7 linked regions of the Homo sapiens genome follow. The protein of the gene in region 6 purifies or fractionates together with the protein of the main gene of each other region. This does not show direct contact. Each region holds a gene or a part of one and is shown on either strand. Other genes may lie near its edges.

Region 1 (2,866 bases), on a different chromosome or scaffold from region 6:
TTATATACAAAAGCACAGTGCTGCTGAGCATAGTGGGTGCCTAGGGATTGAGTGGAATATACTTATGTAGTATTTTTGTTGACAACACAAATCTATAAATGTCATGCATTTTTGAATTAAGAAAACATTTGAATGATCTAAGCCAGCATAAGCCTACTCTCATGAGGGCACAAATTCACCAATAAATTGATACGGAAATAGAAAACAGGAGGGGAATGCAGAACCAACCTTCCCCAAGCATCTAGTGTGTCTGGCATCATGCTAGGGGACTTTCCAAATGTTTCTTTTTGGTTTACTACCGTGTATTTCGTCAGCATCACTACACACTGTAAATATACAATTTAAAGAGTTGTGATGATCTCATGAAGCATAGTTCTGGGCACTGGATCGAGGTTGTAACAATAAACATTGCCTTTAAAGAGTTGGAACACTTAGCTCAGAGTCAAATGCAAAACAAAAAAAAAAAGGTTTCACTTTTGTTCACCAGTCAAGCAACCAAGTGGAGGAATAAGCATTTTTTAATTTCTTATATAAAATGCTAACTTCTTGTCAGGACATACTACAGACTATGCATTGAATTTTTTGACAAACTTCCTGTAATCTTTTTATTAATTTACACTGAGGGAATATAGCACCTTTCATCCGAAGAACTGAAGGTGCTTTACAAACATTAGCATTTAAAAAACAATTACATTTAAAAATCTGGATTCTTGATGTCAAATCTCTTCGACTCCAGATACACAATTTCCTGGAAGCTGATGGAAAGTGATTCTATTTCTGACAATGAAAGAGGCTCAGAAAGAGTCCTAATTTGCTTTCACAGTACAGGCATTTTCCAAAACCTGGTTCTGGGCTTACAAAGCACACACACACAAATCTTAATGCAATGAACAATATTTCAAACCTTATTTCCCAAAGCAAAACCTAGGGCTTAAGACGTCAAAATCTTCCAACAGTTCTAGACATCCAGACAGAATAGGAGCTGATGCAGATTGCATATGAGATGTACTGTTGATCCAGGTGTTTTAGGATCACACTCAAATGAATATAAAGTAGTGAAACTTTTTGGGGAAACACATTAACTTATAAAAAGCTAGCCAAGAGCATATCGGCCAAAGGAGGAAAGGGAGTAAATGGCAATTCAAAGTAGACAGTTCTCACTAGAGCCTAGGGCACTTTATTAGAAACCAAGTATATCATAGGCAAATAAAAATAGTTTTTACCCCCATTGATACAACATAAGGGATTTTACATTCAGCCTAGATATAGGGAGTAACAAATCCTCCTGCCCATAAATCTATGACTTGCAAGTATCTTCCACCACATGATAACTCTATATAGTACATATAGTACATAGCCCTTATTTATTGGAGGGATCCAAAATATTCCTTGTAGGCTCACAAAGTCCAATACATTAGCTCTCTCTTCCCTTTACACGTCTAATAGTAAAAACTATTTTTTCCATGCAAAAAGCCATTATTCAGTTGAAGAGAAATCAGGCAAAACAGAGATGGCAGATAAGGAATGGAGAGAATATTATTGGCACGTGCCCAACTAGTGACAAACAAATGCAGTACACAATGACTTAAAAATAAAAGTCACATTATAGGGATAACAAAAACAACTACATCAATCTAAGCTAAGGAGTGTCAAACAGGGAGGGCTGGGAGTTACCGGTTCTATTAGTACAACTTAAGTGGAAAGCAAGCACTTAAATACAATTTATGGTAACAGGAAAAAAAAAAATACTGCAGAGAGCTGTTCAAAGACCACACCAAGTTGTCTGCATCATTAATTTCCAGTGTTTCACAATTAGTAAAATACATAGCTACATATCCCTGTGAGATAAAAATACCTTTCCACCTGAATTACACTGGGATCAGGGCAGTAACACGAAGCTACTGACCCAACATTAGTTCAAGTGTGTGCAGCAAATGTCTTAGCCACCTCTTTCATATAGCTATATAATTAAAAACTATGTAAGGAGCTGGGTGGTTTGAGGGAAAAAAATTAAATCAAAACAGTATTGTGCTCAATTAATAAAAGAAAACCCTGATGAAAAATTATATGCCAAGAAGCTTAGACTATAAAGATTTTTATTGCATTTTTAGGTAACCTGGAAGTTCTTATCCTGAAGGGGAAAAGTGGGTTTTCAAAACTACCTGAACAGATGCTAAAGTGCTTTATTAATTGGCTGGCTTCACAAGTATTTCCTGGAATAACAAAAATTAATCATAGTAAAGGGATACCAACTATTTCACAAAATGTACATTCCAACATCATTTATGACTACAGTCATAAGAGATACTGGAATACTTGTCCTTATTAAGTGGACAGTTGCATATTCAGAACTGATCATCACAACCCTTTGGATATTCAAATTACTTACACAAAGCTGAAATATGGTATCACAGACCTTTGCAAAAAAGAAGAACTTGTTTCTTTTTCTACACTTTAAATAATCTGCTTCAGATTACAGTTCACAAATACAAGAGTCCTAACTTTTCAACCTTTCCAGTTGCAGTTTAAAAATGAACACTTTCTAAAAGTTAAGGTCAAGTGTTACAGCAAGAGAAGAATGATTCCTATTGAAAAGCACATAGATTTTAGTTAATAATACTCATGATAGATTGTAAACTGGATTGATCACATTCTACTCAACTGGTATCAAATTAACACATCAGCATTACAAGTATTAAATGTTTTTCTATTACTATAGAGGATATAAACCAAAACATTAATATGGCAGTTATGTTCTTTAGGCACAGTTTAGTGATTTTTTTCAAAAATAAATACTATTGAATTTCAATTGAAGTTTTAAACTCAATAACCAAAGGGTCAAGAACTCTGATTAGGAAAAAAGAAA
Region 2 (2,861 bases), on a different chromosome or scaffold from region 6:
TGACAAATGGTGTCTTCTTTGGGCTACTGTTACCCCATCCTTCTGGGGTCCTCAGGTAAGTCCTCCTGCCGTGGAACGGTCTGTTTATATGTGAGTGCCCTGCCTTCTTAGGGCTCTGAATCTCAGTTGAAATTGGGGCTATGTCACAAAGCATTAACCGGCTGTGTCTGTATTGTCTGTTTATATTACACACCAAATAGAAATTATTCTTTAAGAACCAAAAAAATGCTTTGAATTACGAATAGTGAATCCTGCAAGCAAAAATAGGTTCTTGATGGAATCCCAGCATTATGGCATGAAAACGGTTTTATCAGTACAAAGTGGCGCCCAACCCCTTTTGTCCTCCGTAAAGTATTCATTTAGATTTTCTCTTCACTTGGTGTGTTTGCCACCAAAAGAGATGATGTGAAGGGAGCACAGTTGCAGGGCCTCAGAGCGGGCATGGAGCACTCATCGGCAGCATCTAAATGCCACGGGCTCTTTTTTCCATTTCTGTTGGAATTTTCCTCGTTCTAGATTCCAGTGGGATTGTTCTGAATTGATGTAATATATTCAGGCCATTGCAACCCCTTCCCATTGCTCCATGAATTATGCAGTAGTTCTCGGTATGCGTTCCCAAATCCCCAGGACTACTTCTGATTCCAAGCCCACCCAGTGCGCTGTTGCGGAATCTTTCCCCGAATGTTCACTCAGGCATCCACACCCAGGAGTGATGCAGGTGACAAGAAATCTCCCTTTCTCACTGCACTGTCATCCCATAAGCCACTCGGGCCTCTTTTTCTCTTGACACCATGGCACTAGTTCAGCAGTGCAGAGAGAAGCCGTGAGGAGTTCCGGTGTGAAGAGAAAGAATCTGAAAATGGAATGCTCTTCCTCCCTCCCCTAAGTGGAAAATGTGAGGGGAACTTTTTAGAGTAAGTGGCAGTAGCTTGGCTGTTGTGACCGAAACAAACGCAGCCGTATAATAGTCTCTGTTTTAGATACCAGTCATGCAATTTCCATATCTCTGTTTGCCAAAGTGCTGTTTGAAATGTTAAATGCTAAAGGGTGACTCGGAAGCATAGAAACTAGAGGGAGGTCTGTGACTCCTCCATGGAGTTTCCTTCTTCTCTCTGGGCAGATGGCAGAGGGCAGGCCTGTGTGCCTAGTGCCTGGCCACTTCCCCACACCTGCCTTGGAGTGAATGTGCTAGATCTGAGAGCCCGCAAGTCTCTCCTGGTGGCTACCCCTGAGCGAGAGGGATGGTCCTCTACCTCCGGGCTTGCTGACTTTAAACCTTTATTGTTCTCCTGTTTAAAAAACACTTTCCAACCTTCTTGCTTTTCTTTTCTTTCTCTGTCTGTTCTGTCCAGAACCAAACTGTCTTGCTAACTGCCCCCTGGGGACTCTAGCCCTGCCCGCCTCACGCTGTAAGTGCTTCCTTCCTTGTTTCCCAACTGTCTGGAGAGGTCGTGTTGTGTAACTCGCAGTTGGCACCTGACGCTCATCACCTGAGGGAGTTCTGCCCGGTGGCGGTACCCTCGCTCACCCCAAGTTCCAGGAGGTTCGCCTAAACCCAGGAACAGATTGATAAGGCCAGAGACTCATCTGCTCTGCTAGAGGGTTGACCACTCAATGCAAAGAAGGGTTTTTAGGTTATAGAGATTCTGCTGAGATTTCTCCGCTTTTGTACATTTGCAGCCAATATGCTTTCAGAGAATTGAGTAGATACTGGCCAGGAGGGGACATCCTAGGCACAGGGGTCTTGCCTGAGGGGGTCTTTGGGCCCAGCCACCCAGGACTGGTCAACATTTTGGTTATACGTGCACTGGCATGTGCTGAAATGAGGTGTGACCCTAATGTGATAAGGCTTTTGTTTTTCATTTTTCAACAACCATACCACAAGGAATGAACCCAAATATATCTTGTCCTTCCAAGTGAGCACCGTGGGTGACAGAGTAAATGCTCAATAAATATTTGTTGAATGAATAAACAACAAAATCATCCCCACTCCAAATATCTTGAGACCTTCCCTCAGAATTGCTTTCAGAGTCTGAGTCAAAGCACATGAGAAAAGATATACTTTTTGATCAAGGATATAGTCATCCACCCACCTCATCCACTGGCCTTGACTCGAAGCCAGTAGTATCTGTTGTCAAATACAACAGATGTATCCCCATGAAAAGATGACAGGGAACACAGGGAGGGTCAATTCCCAGAAACGTGCTACAGGGGCAGCATCCCAGGACACCATGCCATGCAGCGACCACAGTGGCTTCTCGGGAAAGCGCAGCATCGTTTGCTTGTACATGCCGGTGTGTTACTAAGGAAAAGGTTGATTCCCTTGAATGCAGACTCACAGTGATTCTTCCTTCACAAGCAGAGGCTGGCAAAGAGGGGGTACTGAATGGTCTCATAAAAAGCCTGCTCTTCAGCACCAGCCAGGCGGAACGGGATACGGTGGTGTCAGATAAACCTATGACAGCAGCTTCACCAACACACAACACACACAGAACAGATACACAATACACAACACACACACTACTTCTATAACAAGGGGAGCGCAGACACAAAACACACAGATTTCCCAAACCGTGTGTCCCAGTCAAGCACTGTGGGCTGCAGTGAGATGAGGACACAGGAGCACCTTGGGTTAGTCTGCATCTTGGTGGCTGGTGGCGCTGGTGGAGTTTTAACTGGAGAGGTATTTCTGGTTGTCACGGTACTGTTAGCATAATGCTTTGGGAACAGAAGCTTCTCCCTGTGGCCGTATGAAGTTCCAGCCACAAAAGCAGCAGGGAGCATGAAGCATAGTCTCCAGGGCCACTGTTCCTTTTCTGCTGACCCCAGAGGGAGGCAGGGAAACCGCTCGCCCCATTGCT
Region 3 (3,500 bases), on a different chromosome or scaffold from region 6:
CAGGTTTGGCAGGTCAAGGATTGCCTATGTTCCCTCTGCAGTAAACAGTGGGAACTCAGTGTTCTTGCTTGTGAACATGGATAATCATTTCTTTTCTTTCTTGTTTTTTTTTTTTTTTTTTTTTTTAATAAGACAGAGTCTCGCTCTGTCGTCCAGGCTGGAGTGCAATGGCACAGTCTCAGCTCACTGCAACCTCTGCCTCCCGGGTTCCAGAAATTCTCCTGCCTCGGTCTCCTGAGTAGCTGGGATTACAGGCATGTACCACCATGCTCAACTAATATTTGAGACTGGGTTTCACCATGTTGACCAGGCTGGTCTCAAACTCCTGACCTCAGGTGATCCACCTGCCTTGGCTTCCCAAAGTGCTGGGATTACTGACATGAGCCACTGTGCCCGGCTGATAATCCTAATTTCTCACAGCTGTCTCAAAGGGCTGTTGTGAATATTAAAGGTAATAGTACATACATAGACTTAGCAAATAATAACCTTCTATGTTTCACTCATTTGTTCCACAAATATTGAATATGAACACCAAGGACAGAACCATCTTGTTTCACCTTTGAATTCTCAGTGTCAAGCATATAAGCGCTCGATAAATGTTTCTTACATTATATATAATGAAACTAAACAAGATGACAAACAGAAAACGGAAACCATGTAGCAGTTATTCATCTGATTTTAACAAATGCACACTTTATTACCGAATACAATCTTACATACATTTCCACTTGATCCTTTGCTGGAGGGGATAATTCTGCCTCTGGAGAGGGAGACCCCTCTAACTTTTTGTGAATCTTCTCTTCTGTTATGAAACAAAAATTAAGAAAGATTTGTCTTATATCTAGTTAATAAATGCTAATGTATTTCAAAGTTTCTCAACTAATTTTAACAAGAAATAGAGACTTTGGTGCTTAAAAGGCAAACTCAATACCGATCTTTTTAATAAAAATCTATTTTTTCAGTGTGCCAGAGGGAATTCTCCGATTAAACCACATTAGCATTAGGCCAAGAGGTGAGAGTTGTTCATCTCGTCACTGATACAGTGCTCTAGAGGCACTTAATTAAGAGACTGAAGTCCCCTGTGTACTTATTAATTAGACCAGAAGGACAGAACATCTGTTTAGATTCCAAAACTATTTTCTCACAAAATTCTACACTCATAGACTTTACATTGACTCATCTTGACCAAAACTAATCTGTAAAGAATATTCTTTATTACAATTTGCTCTATTACTTAACATGTAGGTGAGCAAGGGCTATTTCAACTGAAACAGGAAAAAGGGCTATCCCTTAGTTTAGCCTAGGATACTGCCTTAGGTTACAAATCAACTGTGCCCTTAAGAGGCAGGCTCAAGGCTTGGTGGGCAGCAAAATGACCATAAAGAGGGCAAGGAAACAAGGATCCTCACCCTTAATATGAAGGTCTCGTTCTTAGGGATTGCAAACAAGTTAGAAAAAGTATGAGGAGGATTCATATATCGAAATAACTAAATAAGCTTGCCAAGTCTGTGTTTTCAAAAAAGCTGAGTCAAAACAGAAGTCCCTTCCAAACCTGAAGTAATTCATGTCTTAACATCTTAATTTAATGTCGTAATTTAGCAGTCTTAACATCAACAGGCAGATATTAACAGAGGGGCAAGGATGGGGAAAGGAAAGAGACAATATTGTTCCTGATCTCTGAGCTTCAACTTGAAGCCAACAACAATTAAAAAAACCCAAAAAACAGAAAACCATGAAGTGTTTCCTATCTCTGAGGGCACCTGTGGACTAAGTCCCTCCCTTGGTTGCAGGAATCTCTATGAGTGACTGCTGGGTCTGACACAGAAGCCACTAACAGAGCTGCAGATGGAGCATGAGGCTGGCCTAGTGACACACACTGGACACAAAGACTTTGTTCTGGTTGTTTTCTTTTCTGATCAATTCTAAGATTTTCCCCAATCCAGATTCCTCAGGGATGTAATCCTGGCATGTGTGCGCACAGTGCTTTTGACCTCACCTTGCTTACTCTGAAGGTCTTTCAGTCTGGAGCAGAGCTCCTCCACTAAAGTCTCGATACCAGAGCTCTGCATGACAACAAAAAGACACATTAGGTTACAGCCAGGTATGTACAAATCAGGTATTTGTATACTTTTGTTTTAATACACAGGTTTTACAAATCATCCACATTCCAAAATAAATATCTTACCAATATTTACGTGAATACTACAGTTTAAAAATTATAGGTTTGTAGATACAAATTGGTATACATGCTTATTACTAATAAGGCATATTAAATGAAACTTAGTGATAAAATGTGAACATATTCATGTACCTCCCAGAATAGCTTCTGTTTTTCCAAAGGTGTGTCATCTTGCTCATGGGGCAGATTTAAGGGCCTAAATGTCCATCATACGACCAAAAGTCAGTCACCATCAAAAAGAGTATTAAATATTTATGTGAGCGAGATCTTATACCAGACTTAAAACAAAGGAAAATCACAAAACCTCATCTTAGTTCTCTAGGAGCTCACACCCTGAAGAAAACAAGGTGATTTTTTTTTTTTCTGTTTTAAAGAAACATGAACACTCATGATTAAAACAACAGAAGTCCAGAAAATGAAGCCAATATTGCAAATGTGAAAGCTTTGTCTTCTTTTCAGCATCTGGACCAGATTATCGACTTCTATACAAAGCTTGGGAGTTTAAAATTTAAGGAGAGTACATAGAAGAGTCTGGATTTGGGAGGGTAAAAATAAGAGTCAACCTTTAAAGAAAAATGAATGTAGAAAACAGGCACAAGCAAATAATCTTTCATTAGTAGACTTTAACTTTTAAGAGTCTCAATTTCTCACAGGAAGAAAAAAAAATTTTTTTACAGTGGACAAAAAAAGTCAATGTATTTCTCAGAAACTTTAGATTTATTCAGTGACCAAAGTCCTATTTAAACTGGAATCAAGTCCTTATTGGTGGGCATAACCCAAACAGATGCGCGTGATGGAGAGTTCTGCTAAGCCAGTGCCCTCACTAGGCCTTGACGGGCTAAAAATAGAACTTTACCCCATTCACTTAACTCAAAATGACTCAGCACAAATATTATAGATATCCTACATAAGAAATCCCACGGTTACACAGTTTGAGTAGCAAGAAACAGATTACAATGAAAACAGTTAATTGTAAACATCTAGAGTTACATTCTGTCCACGTCATACCACAGGTTTTAATAGGAAGATAGAAAAATAGGCCAGACAAGAGTTGCCCTTTCCTTTAAAAACACTCTTAAAAACGATGGCAGATATTAGTCATAAACACTGTTCAACCACAAACAGTTGCACCAGAAAGCACCTGCTTACCATAATGCTCAAGGTGTGACAAGGACGGCAATTATATTCCATTTCCTTCGGATCGTGAAACCAACACCAGTGTCAGCTGACACACTGCATACTGTTCTGTACAGCAAGCCTATGTCACTAGGTTTCTAAACCTAGGGCTAGTCTCGCAATGCAGAACACTGAACCTCTAGGG
Region 4 (3,500 bases), on a different chromosome or scaffold from region 6:
TGTTGCCCAAGCTGGTCTTGAATCCCTGGGCTCAAACATCCTCCCACCTCAGCCTCCCCAAGTGCTAAGATTACAGGTGTGAGCCACCACACCTGGCCCGGAAAAGCTTTTTGAGCTGAGGTCTTGGGGGAGAGTGTTCTAGAAAGATGCAAAGGCCTAAGGCAATAGTCACCAACTTTTTGGCTCCAGGGACCGGTTTTGTGGAAGACAATTTTTCCACAGATGGAGGCAGGGAGGTGGTCTTGGGATAATTCAAGCACGTTAATCTTTATTATGTACTTTATATCTAATACGTTGTAACATAGAATGAAATAATTCTACAACTCATCATCATGGGGAACCAGTGGGAGCCCTGAGCTTGTTCCTGCAACTAGACGGTCCCAGCTGGGGGTGATGAGAGACAGTGACAGATCATCAGGCATTCGATTTTCATAAGGAGGGTGCAACCTAGATCCCTCACACGCCAGGTTCACAATAGGGTTCGCGCTCCTGTAAGAATCGAATGCCGCCGCTGATCTGACGGAAGCGGGGTTCGGGTGGTCCTGCAAGTGACGGGGAGCGGCTGTAAATACACTCACTGCAGCTCACCTGCTGTACGGTTCAGTTCCTGACAGGCCACGCCCCGGGGGTTAAGGACCCCCGGCCTAAGGACGGTCTATCATATAATTCACCTCGGCCGGGTACAGTGGCTCACGCCTGTAATCCCAGCACTTTGGGTGGCTGAGGCGGCCGGATCATGAAGTCAGGAGATCGAGACCATCCTGGCTAACACGGTGAAACCCCATCTCTACTAAAACCACAAAAAATTAGCCTGGTGTTGTGGCACACTCCTGTAATCCCAGCTACTCAGGAGGCTGAGGTGGGAGAATCACTTGAACCCGGGAGGCAGAGGTTGCAGTGAGCTGGGATTGCGCCACTGCACTACAGCCTGGGTGACAGAGCGAGACTCCATCTCAAAAAAAAAAAAAAAAGAATTCACCTCTCGAAGGGCACCTGGCAGAAGCTGGGCTCATAGGAGGTCTTCCGTGTGTGGGGGACTGCTGGTCCCTGGCTTCCCTGGGGCCCCATCCTCCTCCTCATAGAGTTGGGGACCCACTCCTCCTGTCCCCACAGAGGTGTGCTTGAAGGACCCCATGTCTGTGGCGGACAGCCTGTACAACCTCCAGCTCGTGCAGGATTTCTGTGCCTCTCGCCTTCCTCGTGGCTGCCCCCTGTCCCTTGAGGACTTGCTGTACGTCCCACCGCCACTCAAGGTAAGGCCATCCTGGGGCCTCCTGGGCCGAGGCGGGCATCTGGGGCCAGGGGTCCCGTCTGCTGACCCGGCCTCCCACCTCCAGGTCAACTTGGTGGTGATGCTGGCCGAGTTGTTCATGTGTTTTGAGGTGCTCAAGCCCGACTTTGTGCAAGTGAAGGACTTGCCCGATGGTCACGGTGAGGCCCTGGGGGCCTGGGGGCCGGGTCGGGGGCGGGTGGGAGAGCCAAACCCCCGCCTGACCCTCTTCTCTGTACTGCAGCTGCCTCCCCCCGGGGCACTGAGGCCTCCCCACCTCAGAACAACAGCGGCAGTAGGTACGCTCCCCACACTGGGCGAGTCTCTGGCATTGTGGGTGTGGGGCTCCATGTCTGCCTTGCTGAGCACTGGGACGCAGCTGGGTGATGCTGTTGTCTCCCCCCGGGGAGAGGCGGAGGAGGAGGTGGGGGTCCTGAGGCTGAAGTACGTCTCTCCGTACAGTTCTCCTGTCTTCACCTTCCGCCACCCGCTTCTGTCATCTGGTGGCCCCCAGTCCCCACTCCGAGGATCCACAGGTGAGGAGGGGGTAGGTGGCTTCTGTCACGGGGGACCCCCCCACTCACAGACTGCCCCAGTGGGCCTCATGTTGTCTCCTCGTGAGCCTTCCAATAGCCTCTCCATCAGATCCCCCTTGGGCATCCCAAAGTGACCCCCAGAATGGCCTCCCCAGTGGCCCCACAGTACCCCGTAGTGACAGTAAATGGCCCCGGGTATCTGTTTCTGGAAACCTCTGGTCTCACTAGACCACATAATGAGCCATCAGTGACTCACCCAATGACCTTGCAGAGGTTGTCCCCAGATGCTGGCTGACCCCACTCAGGGTTCCCAGGGTCCCCATAGTGACCACTCATCGCCTCCCCCAGGCTCCCTGAAGTCTTCCCCGTCCATGTCCCATATGGAGGCCCTGGGCAAGGCCTGGAACCGGCAGCTCAGGTGAGTAGACCTCACAGGCCAGGGTAGGGGGTGGAGCAGGCTAGGGCGGGTTGGGGCCGAGGCTGGTCCCAGGGGCTGACCCCTCCCTCCGGCCGCCCAGCCGTCCCCTCTCCCAGGCTGTGTCATTCAGCACCCCCTTTGGCCTGGACAGCGACGTGGATGTCGTCATGGGAGACCCTGTGCTCCTCCGCTCTGTGAGCTCGGACAGCCTGGGCCCCCCGCGTCCCGCGCCGGCCAGGACCCCCACCCAGCCACCCCCGGAGCCTGGTGACCTGCCCACCATCGAGGAAGCTCTGCAGATCATCCACAGTGCCGAGCCCCGGCTCCTCCCAGATGGGGCGGCCGACGGCAGCTTCTACCTCCACTCCCCTGAGGGGCCCTCCAAGCCATCCCTGGCCTCCCCCTACCTGCCCGAGGGGACCTCCAAACCACTGTCCGACAGGCCCACCAAAGCACCAGTGTACATGCCACACCCCGAGACCCCCTCGAAACCATCTCCCTGTCTGGTGGGGGAGGCATCGAAACCGCCAGCCCCATCCGAGGGGTCCCCGAAGGCGGTGGCTTCGTCCCCAGCAGCCACCAACTCCGAGGTGAAAATGACCAGCTTTGCAGAACGCAAGAAACAGCTGGTGAAGGCAGAGGCTGAGGCCGGAGCGGGGTCCCCCACGTCCACTCCGGCCCCGCCGGAGGCCCTGAGCTCGGAGATGAGTGAGCTCAGCGCCCGGCTGGAGGAGAAACGCAGAGCCATCGAGGCTCAGAAGCGACGGATTGAGGCCATATTCGCCAAGCACCGCCAGCGGCTGGGCAAAAGCGCCTTCCTGCAGGTGCAGCCGCGGGAAGCCTCTGGGGAGGCGGAAGCAGAGGCGGAGGAGGCCGATTCCGGTCCAGTCCCTGGTGGGGAGCGGCCCGCAGGCGAGGGCCAGGGTGAGCCAACCTCACGGCCCAAGGCAGTGACCTTCTCGCCAGACCTGGGCCCGGTGCCCCACGAGGGGCTGGGGGAATACAATCGAGCGGTCAGCAAGCTGAGTGCCGCCTTGAGCTCGCTGCAGCGGGACATGCAGAGGCTCACGGACCAGCAGCAGCGGCTCCTGGCCCCGCCCGAGGCCCCCGGATCCGCCCCACCACCTGCTGCGTGGGTCATCCCTGGCCCCACGACGGGGCCCAAAGCTGCATCCCCCAGCCCCGCCCGGCGAGTCCCGGCCACCCGGCGCAGCCCTGGGCCCGGGCCCAGCCAGTCACCCCGCAGCCCGAAACACACGCGGCCAGCGGAGCTGCG
Region 5 (2,837 bases), on a different chromosome or scaffold from region 6:
GGGCCTGGGCACAGGAGGGAGAGCTGCAGAGTGTCCTGCCTGCCTTGGCTGGAGGGACACCTCTCCTGGGTGTGGAGACAGCTTGGTTCCCTTTCCCTAGCTCCCTGGTGGGTGAATGCCACCTCCTGAGATCCTCACCTCTTGGAATTAAAATTGTTGGTCACTGGGGAAAGCCTGAGTTTGCAACCAGTTGTAGGGTTTCTGTTGTGTTTTTTTTTTTTTTTTTGAAATAAAACTATAATATAAATTCTCCTATTAAATAAAATTATTTTAAGTTTTAGTGTCAAAAGTGAGATGCTGAGAGTAGGTGATAATGTATATTTTACAGAGTGGGGGTTGGCAGGATGGTGACATTGAACATGATTGCTCTCTGTCTCTTTTTTCAGCTTATGGGTATTTATCTTCTATTAGTATTTGTATCTTCAGTTCATTCCACTTTAGGAAACAGAGCTGCCAATTGAAACAGAAGAAGAAAAAAAAAAAAAGCAGCAGACAACACACTGTAGAGTCTTGCACACACACAAGTGCCCAGGCAAGGTGCTTGGCAGAACCGCAGAGTGGGAAGAGAGTACCGGCATCGGGTTTCCTTGGGATCAATTTCATTACCGTGTACCTTTCCCATTGTGGTCATGCCATTTGGCAGGGGGAGAATGGGAGGCTTGGCCTTCTTTGTGAGGCAGTGTGAGCAGAAGCTGATGCCAGCATGTCACTGGTTTTGAAGGGATGAGCCCAGACTTGATGTTTTGGGATTGTCCTTATTTTAACCTCAAGGTCTCGCATGGTGGGGCCCCTGACCAACCTACACAAGTTCCCTCCCACAAGTGGACATCAGTGTCTTCTCTGTGAGGCATCTGGCCATTCGCACTCCCTGGTGTGGTCAGCCTCTCTCACACAAGGAGGAACTTGGGTGAAGGCTGAGTGTGAGGCACCTGAAGTTTCCCTGCGGAGTCGATAAATTAGCAGAACCACATCCCCATCTGTTAGGCCTTGGTGAGGAGGCCCTGGGCAAAGAAGGGTCTTTCGCAAAGCGATGTCAGAGGGCGGTTTTGAGCTTTCTATAAGCTATAGCTTTGTTTATTTCACCCGTTCACTTACTGTATAATTTAAAATCATTTATGTAGCTGAGACACTTCTGTATTTCAATCATATCATGAACATTTTATTTTGCTAAATCTTGTGTCATGTGTAGGCTGTAATATGTGTACATTGTGTTTAAGAGAAAAATGAAACCCACATGCCGCCATTTTCCTGAATCAAATTCTGCAGTGGAATGGAGAGGAAAATACTTCTAGGCAAGCAGCTAGACTGGTGAATTGGGGGAAATAGAAGGAACTAGTAACTGAGACTCCTCCAGCCTCCTCCCTATTGGAATCCCAATGGCTCCTGGAGTAGGAAAAAAGTTTAAACTACATTCATGTTCTTGTTCTGTGTCACTCGGCCCTGGGTAGTCTACCATTTACTTCACCCCAAGTCCTGCTGCCCATCCAGTTGGGAAGCCATGATTTTCCTAAGAATCCAGGGCCATGGGAGATACAATTCCAAGTTCTCGCTTCCTCCTTTGGGCATCTCTTCTGCCTCCCAATCAAGGAAGCTCCATGCTCAGGCTCTCAGCTCTCGGGCCAGTGCTCTGCTCTGTCCAGGGTAGGTAATACTGGGAGACTCCTGTCTTTTACCCTCCCCTCGTTCCAGACCTGCCTCATGGTGGCAACATGGTTCTTGAACAATTAAAGAAACAAATGACTTTTTGGAATAGCCCTGTCTAGGGCAAACTGTGGCCCCCAGGAGACACTACCCTTCCATGCCCCAGACCTCTGTCTTGCATGTGACAATTGACAATCTGGACTACCCCAAGATGGCACCCAAGTGTTTGGCTTCTGGCTACCTAAGGTTAACATGTCACTAGAGTATTTTTATGAGAGACAAACATTATAAAAATCTGATGGCAAAAGCAAAACAAAATGGAAAGTAGGGGAGGTGGATGTGACAACAACTTCCAAATTGGCTCTTTGGAGGCGAGAGGAAGGGGAGAACTTGGAGAATAGTTTTTGCTTTGGGGGTAGAGGCTTCTTAGATTCTCCCAGCATCCGCCTTTCCCTTTAGCCAGTCTGCTGTCCTGAAACCCAGAAGTGATGGAGAGAAACCAACAAGAGATCTCGAACCCTGTCTAGAAGGAATGTATTTGTTGCTAAATTTCGTAGCACTGTTTACAGTTTTCCTCCATGTTATTTATGAATTTTATATTCCGTGAATGTATATTGTCTTGTAATGTTGCATAATGTTCACTTTTTATAGTGTGTCCTTTATTCTAAACAGTAAAGTGGTTTTATTTCTATCACACATCTGCTGTCTCTTGCCTTGTTGTGTTCTGACGCCACGGGGAGTTATGTATACACCAGCAGGCCTTGAAAGTCTATCCCCAGCTCCAGGCCTGGACACATCCCTCCCTCCATGCACCGCTATGGCCTGGCCCCACCCTGCTCCAGTCCTTTTCCCTTGCAGAAGGAATCTTAGGAGAGGTGCCCTGCCTTGACTTTGCTCCCTGATTCTATTGCTAGAGTCCTCCCTAGTTCTGCTGAATCTGGATGTATTAATATATCTGTACCTAATCACCTATTGGTGGTACAAGTACCCCCAGACTGGAGTCCTTACTCAGCCCTCCTTGTTTTCTTCCTAAGAATCCCAACCTGGTGGAGGTGGGGAGGGGCGGCCTGCAAACAGCAGTCCTTGATGTCAACTGCCTGCTTGAAATTCCAAGTATGGCTTGGCCTAGTTGGGAACACCAGGAACTCATGAGGTCTCACGACAGCTGGTGACCTTTTCCCAGAGCTTATAACAAC
Region 6 (3,500 bases):
GTTGACCTGAAGGAGCTCCAGCCCACTCCAGCCCCTTCCCACCCATCATGCCAGGCTATAACTCCACTGGAGCAGTAGGCGGACCAGCTGGAGGCCTTCTCAGCAGAGCAGAGAGCTCTCAAGGAGCAGACAGGGGGAGGTGTTGGCAAGGCAGCTGCAACAACAAGTTCACCCCGCTTTGGATTTTAAAAGGATCGAAATTCGAAATCCTCTTCTGGGGTTATGTGAGGTGCTGTGGGGTCTTTTTCCTTCCTCCTTTCTTTTTGGTAGGCAAGCAACATACCAAGTTCCTAGAAAAGGAGAAAAACACTGTGGCAGCCCAGAGGGCCATAGCTAAAGCGTGACTCACTCAGAGCCGATCCTACTGACACACGTCCCCTCCCTCCGTCCCACTCTGCCATTGCCCCCTCCTGTCAGGACCAGACTAGGGGGTCTGGGACTCCCGGGGAGCCATGCACCCCCCACTTGGGTGGTGGTGGCAGGGCAGGGGAGTGTTGCCAAACCTCAGGAGGACTTGGAGCTGCCCGTGCCACTTCCTGTGGAGAGACTCCAGTGCGCCTGCCGCTCAGCCCTGCAGAGCCTCAGCTGTGCCTGCCCGTGCCCTGGCAGAGGGTGGGAAAGTCCCACCAGCAGTGTTGAGTTGAAAGCTCAGCCACACTGGCATGTGCTCTCCGGGGCCTGTTGTCACACCATGGCACCTCTCCCCTACCGCCTCCAAGACAGAGTCTTTTCCTACCAGGTGTGCCAACCATCGGAGATGAGAGGACACCAGCTTCTACTATTTGCCAGGCATTGGGCTAAGTGCCCTCCATGAGATTATCTTATCTTGCTGAATCCTAACCCAGTTCTGGAGTTTGGTGCTGGGATTTCACTGTTGTACGCATGAGGAAATTGAGGTTTAGCAAGAGATTCACAGAGCAAGGAAGTGGCAGAGCCAGGACTAGGAACCTGGCTCCCAAACCCACCGTACTTTCTCCTGAGCTGTCCTCCTCTCAGCGTCTTGAGCCTCAGAGACCCACAGGATGCATTTGCAGCTTCCGCGGCCATCTCTGACCAGGGGAGAAAACCCACAGTGCCTCTGCTCTGTGGGAACCTTCTGGACAAGAGGCCCGAGCAGCCCCATATTCAGGGCAGCGGCACTGGAGCTTCAGAGCTAGAGCAGCCCACTCCTTGACGTGCAAGTGACCCTTTGCAGTGACCCTTCACCTGTGCGATCAGGCTCTAGCCGCCTGCGGGCCACCAGTCAGACTCCTATGGCAGCTGACAGGGCGGACCTGTATAGGCGCTGGAGTTGGCGTTTCCGTGGGGAATCCAGAGGACGGGCTGGCCTTTGTTTTGCATCGAGCCCTTTGCCAGCAGAATTCCCCGAGATCACCGAGGGCTCTCAGAGCCGCCTGGATGCGGCTCCCGGGGAAATCCGCCAGCAGCCACACATGCCCTCTGCCTCTGAGAGCTGATTGTAGGGAGAGGCAGCCCAAGGCCCCCATGGAGCTCTCCTTCCTGTTGTCCTCCCAGCTTCTCCCCCTAGCTTCTCCACCCAGCCAGCCGACACAGGAGCAGGGCAGTTGGGTAGAGAGGCATCCTTCCTCACTGCCTGCCCCAGTGGGCCAGGAAACCTTTCCCAGGCCTCTTAGACAGGGCCTGCCCACCCTCCCAGCCCCCAGTGTGGTGTAAGGTGTAAGGGTCCTCTCGGGGCACTTCCTTTTGTCCACATGTGAGTTTTCTCCAAAGGATCAGAGCCCAAAGCTGCCCTGCCCCACGCCTTTCAGAGGGAGGGTCTGTGATGTTCTAGCCAGGGCAGAGTCACAAGTACGAGGTAAGGGATGAGTCAGCTTTGATGGAACAGAAGGAAAAGTCATTCGGGGCCTGGGGCCCTGCCCAGGGACACATCTGGGCATGAGGCAGCTGTCAGTTGTGTGTGCAGCTCTGGGGCCCTGCAGACCTGGTCTTGGATCCTGCTCTTCTGCTCACCAGCTGCATGACCTTGGCCAAGTCCTTTCACTTCCCTGTGCCTTTGTTGTATCATCTGAAACAGGACCGTGAGAAAATCCCCCTCATTGGCCACTGTCAGTTTCTTCCTCTGCAGTGGTTGTGGGGCCAAGTGAGAACTGACATATTCCGTGGTTCGGAGGTGGCTCGGGGCCAGCCCTTGGGTCACCTTCCAAGGTGGAGTCACTCACCTCTGCTGGACTTCCTTTTCCTCATGTGTGAATGAGGAAATTGAACTAAATCTCAGGTCACTCCCAGTCTAGAATATTACGTGAGGCTGTTTTTGAGAAATCTCTGAAAGTTGTTCTAAGCCCTAAGCTGTACCCCGAGATTCAGCCCGGGCAGCAGGTCCAGGGATGGCCTGTGCAACACTCAGATACCTGGGAGAGAAGCCGATCCCTGCTGGGACAGCTCGGCTGGTGGCCAGAAAAGTCTGGGGCCTGATTCCTCTGCTCTGCTCCCTGGAGAGGGGGTCGGGGCAGCTGCTTCACCCTCTGACGAGAAGCCTACCTCCTACTGTTCAGGATTGGGTGTTGGCCCAGTGAGGTGTGTCCTGCCTGCGTGTCTTGTGCCTGTTGCTATAGACACTGAGGTTTGTTCACTCTGTCTCCCACTCCTAGGACACATCGGATAACCATCACCAACTTCTGCCTCGGGAAGCATCTGGTGAGCGAGGGGGACCTGCTGAAGGACCAGAGAGGGAGCCCTGCCTACATCAGTCCCGACGTGCTCAGCGGTACGTGTGTGTGCCAGACATTGGGCCTCTAAGCTCAATACAGCCAGGCTCTGTGACAGTCCACTCAGCAAATTTGTGGGCAGGCCCTGGGCAAGGTGCTGGGGCTTCACTGGGGGCCCAGACCAGTACTGTCCCTCCCCATACAAAATGTTTGGTCTGTTGGAGGTGGAAGACGTAATGATAACATGAATGCATGTTTAATTCCTCTGAGGTTAGTGCTAGGGAGGAACGGGATTGCTGTGAGAGTGGATGAAGGGTGCTTGGAGGACTTTCCCCACAAGGTGTGACAGTTGAGCTATGATCTTAAGGGAAACTAGGAATTCCCTGGGTATGTGTGACTAGGCTGAGGCTGAGGGTCCCAGAGGCAGCACAGCACGTTGGAGCAATTGCAGGCTGCTCAGAAAGTGAGCCTGGTTCAAGGGGAAGCCAGAGAGGTGCGCAGGGGCCAGATCAGGCAAGGCCTGACATAGGCCTCAGTAAGAGATGTCATCCTTTACTTCAAGTGCGAGTGGAAGCCATTGAACAGTTCTTAACTGAGTGTGCTGCTGTGAGTTTGTGTTTCAGAGCCCTCTCTCCTTGTCTGTGTTCATTCATTCTGTTACTGTTTGCTGAGGGCCACCCAGGCCCAAAGCTCTGTTCTAGACACTTTGGAGACAACAGGGAACAAAGTAGACAAACATTGCTGCCTTCATGGAGCTGACTTTCTAGTGGGGATGAGACAGATAATACACGAAACAAATAAGTAACTCACAGGCCGGGTGCAGTGGCTCATGCC
Region 7 (3,500 bases), on a different chromosome or scaffold from region 6:
GGGAGGGAGACATGCAGTATTAAAGCCCTTTTTAAAAATCTGAAACTTTTTTACCAATACAAAAATTATTTTTATTTTTTATTTATTCATTTTTTTTGAGACGGAATCTTGCTCTTTTGCCCAGGCTGGAGTGCAGTGGCGTGATCTCACCTCACTGCAACCTCCACCTCCCAGGTCCAAGCGATTCTCTTGCCTCAGCCTCCCGAGTAGCTGGGATTACAGGCACCTATCACCACGCTGGGCTGATTTTTGTATTTTTAGTAGAGACGGGGTTTCTCCATGTTGGTAGGCTGATCTCGAACTCACGACCTGAGGAGATCCACCTGCCTTGGCCTCCCAAAGTGCTGGGATTACAGGCGTGAGCCACCGCGCCTGGCCACAAAAATTTATTTTTATTACTTATTTCCACTATCACATGAGCTAGATCATATAACAACATTGAAAATCCACTGGCTAAAGACCAAAGACAGACTAATGGCTCAGCTAGATAATAGCAAATGATATGTTGGACTTAAGTTGTTTGATTTTTTTTTTTTTTTTTTTTTTTTTTTTTTTTTTGAGGCAGAGTCTCGCTGTGTCCCCCAGGCTGGAGTGCAATGGCAGGATCTCGGCTCACTGCAACCTCTACCTCCCTGCAACCTCTACCTACCTGGTTCAAGCGATTATCCAGCCTTACCCTCCTGAGTAGCTGGGACTACAGGCATGCGCCACCACGCCTGGCTACTTTTTGTATTTTTAGTAGAGACGGGGTTTCACCATATTGGCCAGGCTGGTCTTGAACTCCTGACTTCGTGATCTGCCTGCCTCGGCTTCCCAAAGTGTTGGGATTACAGGCGTGAGCCACCGTGTCCGGCCTTGAGATATTTTTTTAATTCAAAAGTTTATTCACAAACTTCAACTTTTAAGTGTTTTATTACAGATAGACTGGTAAGCTACAGAATTTTTAGGACTTTTTTTTTGGGGGGGCGGGCTAGGAGGGCTGATTTCTGAGAAGCAGAGAAAAACTTGTAGACAGGAGAAGCCGTTTCTGTTACAGTAAAATAAAGCTATTATACTATTAGTATCCTTCATGATATTAAGCAGATACAAGACCCGTTCTTATTTATTAAAAGAACTGAGGGATATAGTAAGTATCAGTTTTTATTAAAGCTGTCTTTCTCCTATTGGACAATGAGTTGCGTTTACTGAGGGCCAGAATCCTTTTGCTCATATCAGGTTTGCTCCTGCCTAGCATATAGTAGTTGCTCAATATATGTTTATATATTAAACGAATAAATTGGTGGCTTTATTCTTTCTGCCTAAAATATTGTCTGGTCTTATTTGTTAGGAATTCTGACCACCTGATTTTCCATAATGCCTCATATCTGGTATTCTGGGTACTCTGCAATTAGGCCATTAAGAAACTGAAAGAACCAAGTTGCATTTTTTTTTTTCCAGGCTGGCTAGGGAACCATCTACTGGAGTTGAGGCTATTTTTTCCTGCCCTTTTATAGGATATTTTTTAAAGTATGAAATATTTTAAGTGTACAGAGATCAATATAATGAACCTTCATATACATACCACCCAGCTCTATAAGATTCTAGTAATCTGCCATGTTTGTTATTTTAAAATAAATAACACATTAAAACGCAGATAAATGATTCTGGTCTCTTTCCTTAATCTCCGGGTAATCATTATGAATTTGGTATTTGTCTCATTTTTTTTTCCTTTTTTTTTTTTTTTTAGTTTTGCAATATACATATGTACTTACCAAAAAAAACTATTTTGCATGCATATAACTACTTATCTGTTCTCCTATTTTATGAAGTTGAGGTTGTTTCTAATTTTCTTTACCAAAAAAAAATGAGCATTTCTCTAGGGAGTTTACTGTGAAGAAAAATGGCCGGGTCATAGAGTACGCTATTTATTTATTCATTTATATGTTTATGCCAAATTGCTCTGAAGTTTTTACTAATTTAAACTCCAACCACTATTGTGTGAAAGTTTGTTTTTCTACACTCCTCAGACTTGACATTAACAGAGATGCATGTTTTTTCAATCTGAAATGTTCTCTTAAGGTAATCTTTTCCTATCAGTCACATTAAATACCTTTTCATAGGTATTATTCATTGTTCAAGTTTACTCTTATAAGTTGAAGAACATTATTTGCATATTTGTGCTGTTAGATTTTTGTTCATTGGATATTGATAGGCATAGTTAATAAGTAAACATGCTTTTTAACAAACTAACACATTGCAGGCTTCTTCTATATTCTTTTAGATATTTAGATAGATGTTACTAACGTTTTACCCCTCACAAAACTCAAGTTCTATAAAAATATTATGAACCTTCCCATACTTGTTGGCATTTCAGAAATGGTACAACCTAATGAGCCTGTTACCAAGAATCTAGTGTAGTGAAATCTGGAGCCCGGGCCAACGTGTGTGAATTGCTGATAACATTTTTGTAAGCTATTTTTGATTAAGGGTAATTTGTCACTTAATGACCATAATTAAGTTTAATGTACCAGTAGTAGTTTATTGCTAAATGCCTACTTTGTGTCATACTACAAATTTGAAGAAAAGAGTATTTCCTGCAATGGTGACTCTCTTCTTTTTCTCATCCCCCCAGGTTGTATCAGAGTAAGATGGACGGTAGCTTTGATTGTGATTGTGGTGAGCTGGAGCCACCTGATCACTAACAAAAGACATCTTCTGTTAACCAACAGCCGCCAGGGCTTCCTGTTGAAATAAATATATAGCAACAAAGGAAAAAAAGAAGCAAAACGGAAATAGTGCTTACCAGCACCTTAGAATGATGCTGCTCAGGACCAGTCCAACACTGAATGTATCTGCACTGTGAGGAGAATGTTCATAGAAGCCTGTTGTGTGCATATTTATTCACATTTTTGTTAAATGTTAAATCGTTTAGCACGGTAATCTGAGTGCACAGTATGTCATTTCATTCCGTTTGAGTTTCTTGTTTTCGTTAAATGTCTGCAGAGTTGCTGCCCCTTTCTTGAACTATGAGTACTGCAATCTTTTTAATTCTCAATATGAATAGAGCTTTTTGAGCTTTAAATCTAAGGGGAACTCGACAGGCCTGTTTGGCATATGCAATGAACATCAAGAAACCATCTTGCTGTGGAAGCATAATTATTTTTCTTCTCCCTTTTTGAAAGATCTTTCCTTTTGATGCCAGTTTTCTTCCTTGTTTACACAAGTTCAATTTGAAAGGAAAAGGCAATAGTAAGGGTTTCAAAATGGCAGAGAAATTTGAAAGTCTCATGAACATTCATGGTTTTGATCTGGGTTCTAGGTATATGGACTTAAAACCATTGGGTTGTGGAGGCAATGGCTTGGTTTTTTCTGCTGTAGACAATGACTGTGACAAAAGAGTAGCCATCAAGAAAATTGTCCTTACTGATCCCCAGAGTGTCAAACATGCTCTACGTGAAATCAAAATTATTAGAAGACTTGACCATGATAACATTGTGAAAGTGTTTGAGATTCTTGGTCCC

The links.
Region 1: the proteins of STK40 (region 6) and PPP6C purify together in Homo sapiens (affinity purification with mass spectrometry, with the first as the bait; one large-scale study listed by BioGRID). This does not show direct contact.
Region 2: the proteins of STK40 (region 6) and MTCL1 purify together in Homo sapiens (affinity purification with mass spectrometry, with the first as the bait; one large-scale study listed by BioGRID). This does not show direct contact.
Region 3: the proteins of STK40 (region 6) and KIAA0232 purify together in Homo sapiens (affinity purification with mass spectrometry, with the first as the bait; one large-scale study listed by BioGRID). This does not show direct contact.
Region 4: the proteins of STK40 (region 6) and CAMSAP3 purify together in Homo sapiens (affinity purification with mass spectrometry, with the first as the bait; one large-scale study listed by BioGRID). This does not show direct contact.
Region 5: the proteins of STK40 (region 6) and TIMP3 purify together in Homo sapiens (affinity purification with mass spectrometry; one large-scale study listed by BioGRID and IntAct). This does not show direct contact.
Region 7: the proteins of STK40 (region 6) and MAPK6 purify together in Homo sapiens (affinity purification with mass spectrometry, with the first as the bait; one large-scale study listed by BioGRID). This does not show direct contact.

What each region holds. Positions count from the first base shown.
Region 1 is NC_000009.12:125,146,073-125,148,938, forward strand, and holds the end of PPP6C (serine/threonine-protein phosphatase 6 catalytic subunit), read right to left. Parts: 3' UTR 501-2,866; downstream 1-500.
Region 2 is NC_000018.10:8,827,556-8,830,416, forward strand, and holds part of MTCL1 (microtubule cross-linking factor 1), read left to right. Parts: coding exon of another isoform or gene 1-55; intron 56-1,352; coding exon of another isoform or gene 1,353-1,391; exon of another isoform or gene 1,392-1,410; intron 1,411-2,861. UniProt on the Homo sapiens protein: Microtubule-associated factor involved in the late phase of epithelial polarization and microtubule dynamics regulation.
Region 3 is NC_000004.12:6,855,727-6,859,226, reverse strand, and holds part of KIAA0232 (uncharacterized protein KIAA0232), read right to left. Parts: intron 3,427-3,500; exon of another isoform or gene 3,371-3,426; coding exon of another isoform or gene 3,329-3,370; intron 2,064-3,328; coding exon 1,997-2,063; intron 803-1,996; coding exon 721-802; intron 1-720.
Region 4 is NC_000019.10:7,609,363-7,612,862, forward strand, and holds part of CAMSAP3 (calmodulin-regulated spectrin-associated protein 3), read left to right. Parts: intron 1-1,113; coding exon 1,114-1,253; intron 1,254-1,337; coding exon 1,338-1,431; intron 1,432-1,514; coding exon 1,515-1,569; intron 1,570-1,732; coding exon 1,733-1,806; intron 1,807-2,154; coding exon 2,155-2,224; intron 2,225-2,324; coding exon 2,325-3,500. UniProt on the Homo sapiens protein: Key microtubule-organizing protein that specifically binds the minus-end of non-centrosomal microtubules and regulates their dynamics and organization.
Region 5 is NC_000022.11:32,860,705-32,863,541, forward strand, and holds the end of TIMP3 (metalloproteinase inhibitor 3 precursor), read left to right. Parts: 3' UTR 1-2,337; downstream 2,338-2,837.
Region 6 is NC_000001.11:36,347,925-36,351,424, reverse strand, and holds part of STK40 (serine/threonine-protein kinase 40), read left to right. Parts: intron 1-2,609; coding exon 2,610-2,725; intron 2,726-3,500. UniProt on the Homo sapiens protein: May be a negative regulator of NF-kappa-B and p53-mediated gene transcription.
Region 7 is NC_000015.10:52,043,219-52,046,718, forward strand, and holds part of MAPK6 (mitogen-activated protein kinase 6), read left to right. Parts: intron 1-559; exon of another isoform or gene 560-2,446; intron 2,447-2,611; 5' UTR 2,612-3,242; coding exon 3,243-3,500. UniProt on the Homo sapiens protein: Atypical MAPK protein. Phosphorylates microtubule-associated protein 2 (MAP2) and MAPKAPK5.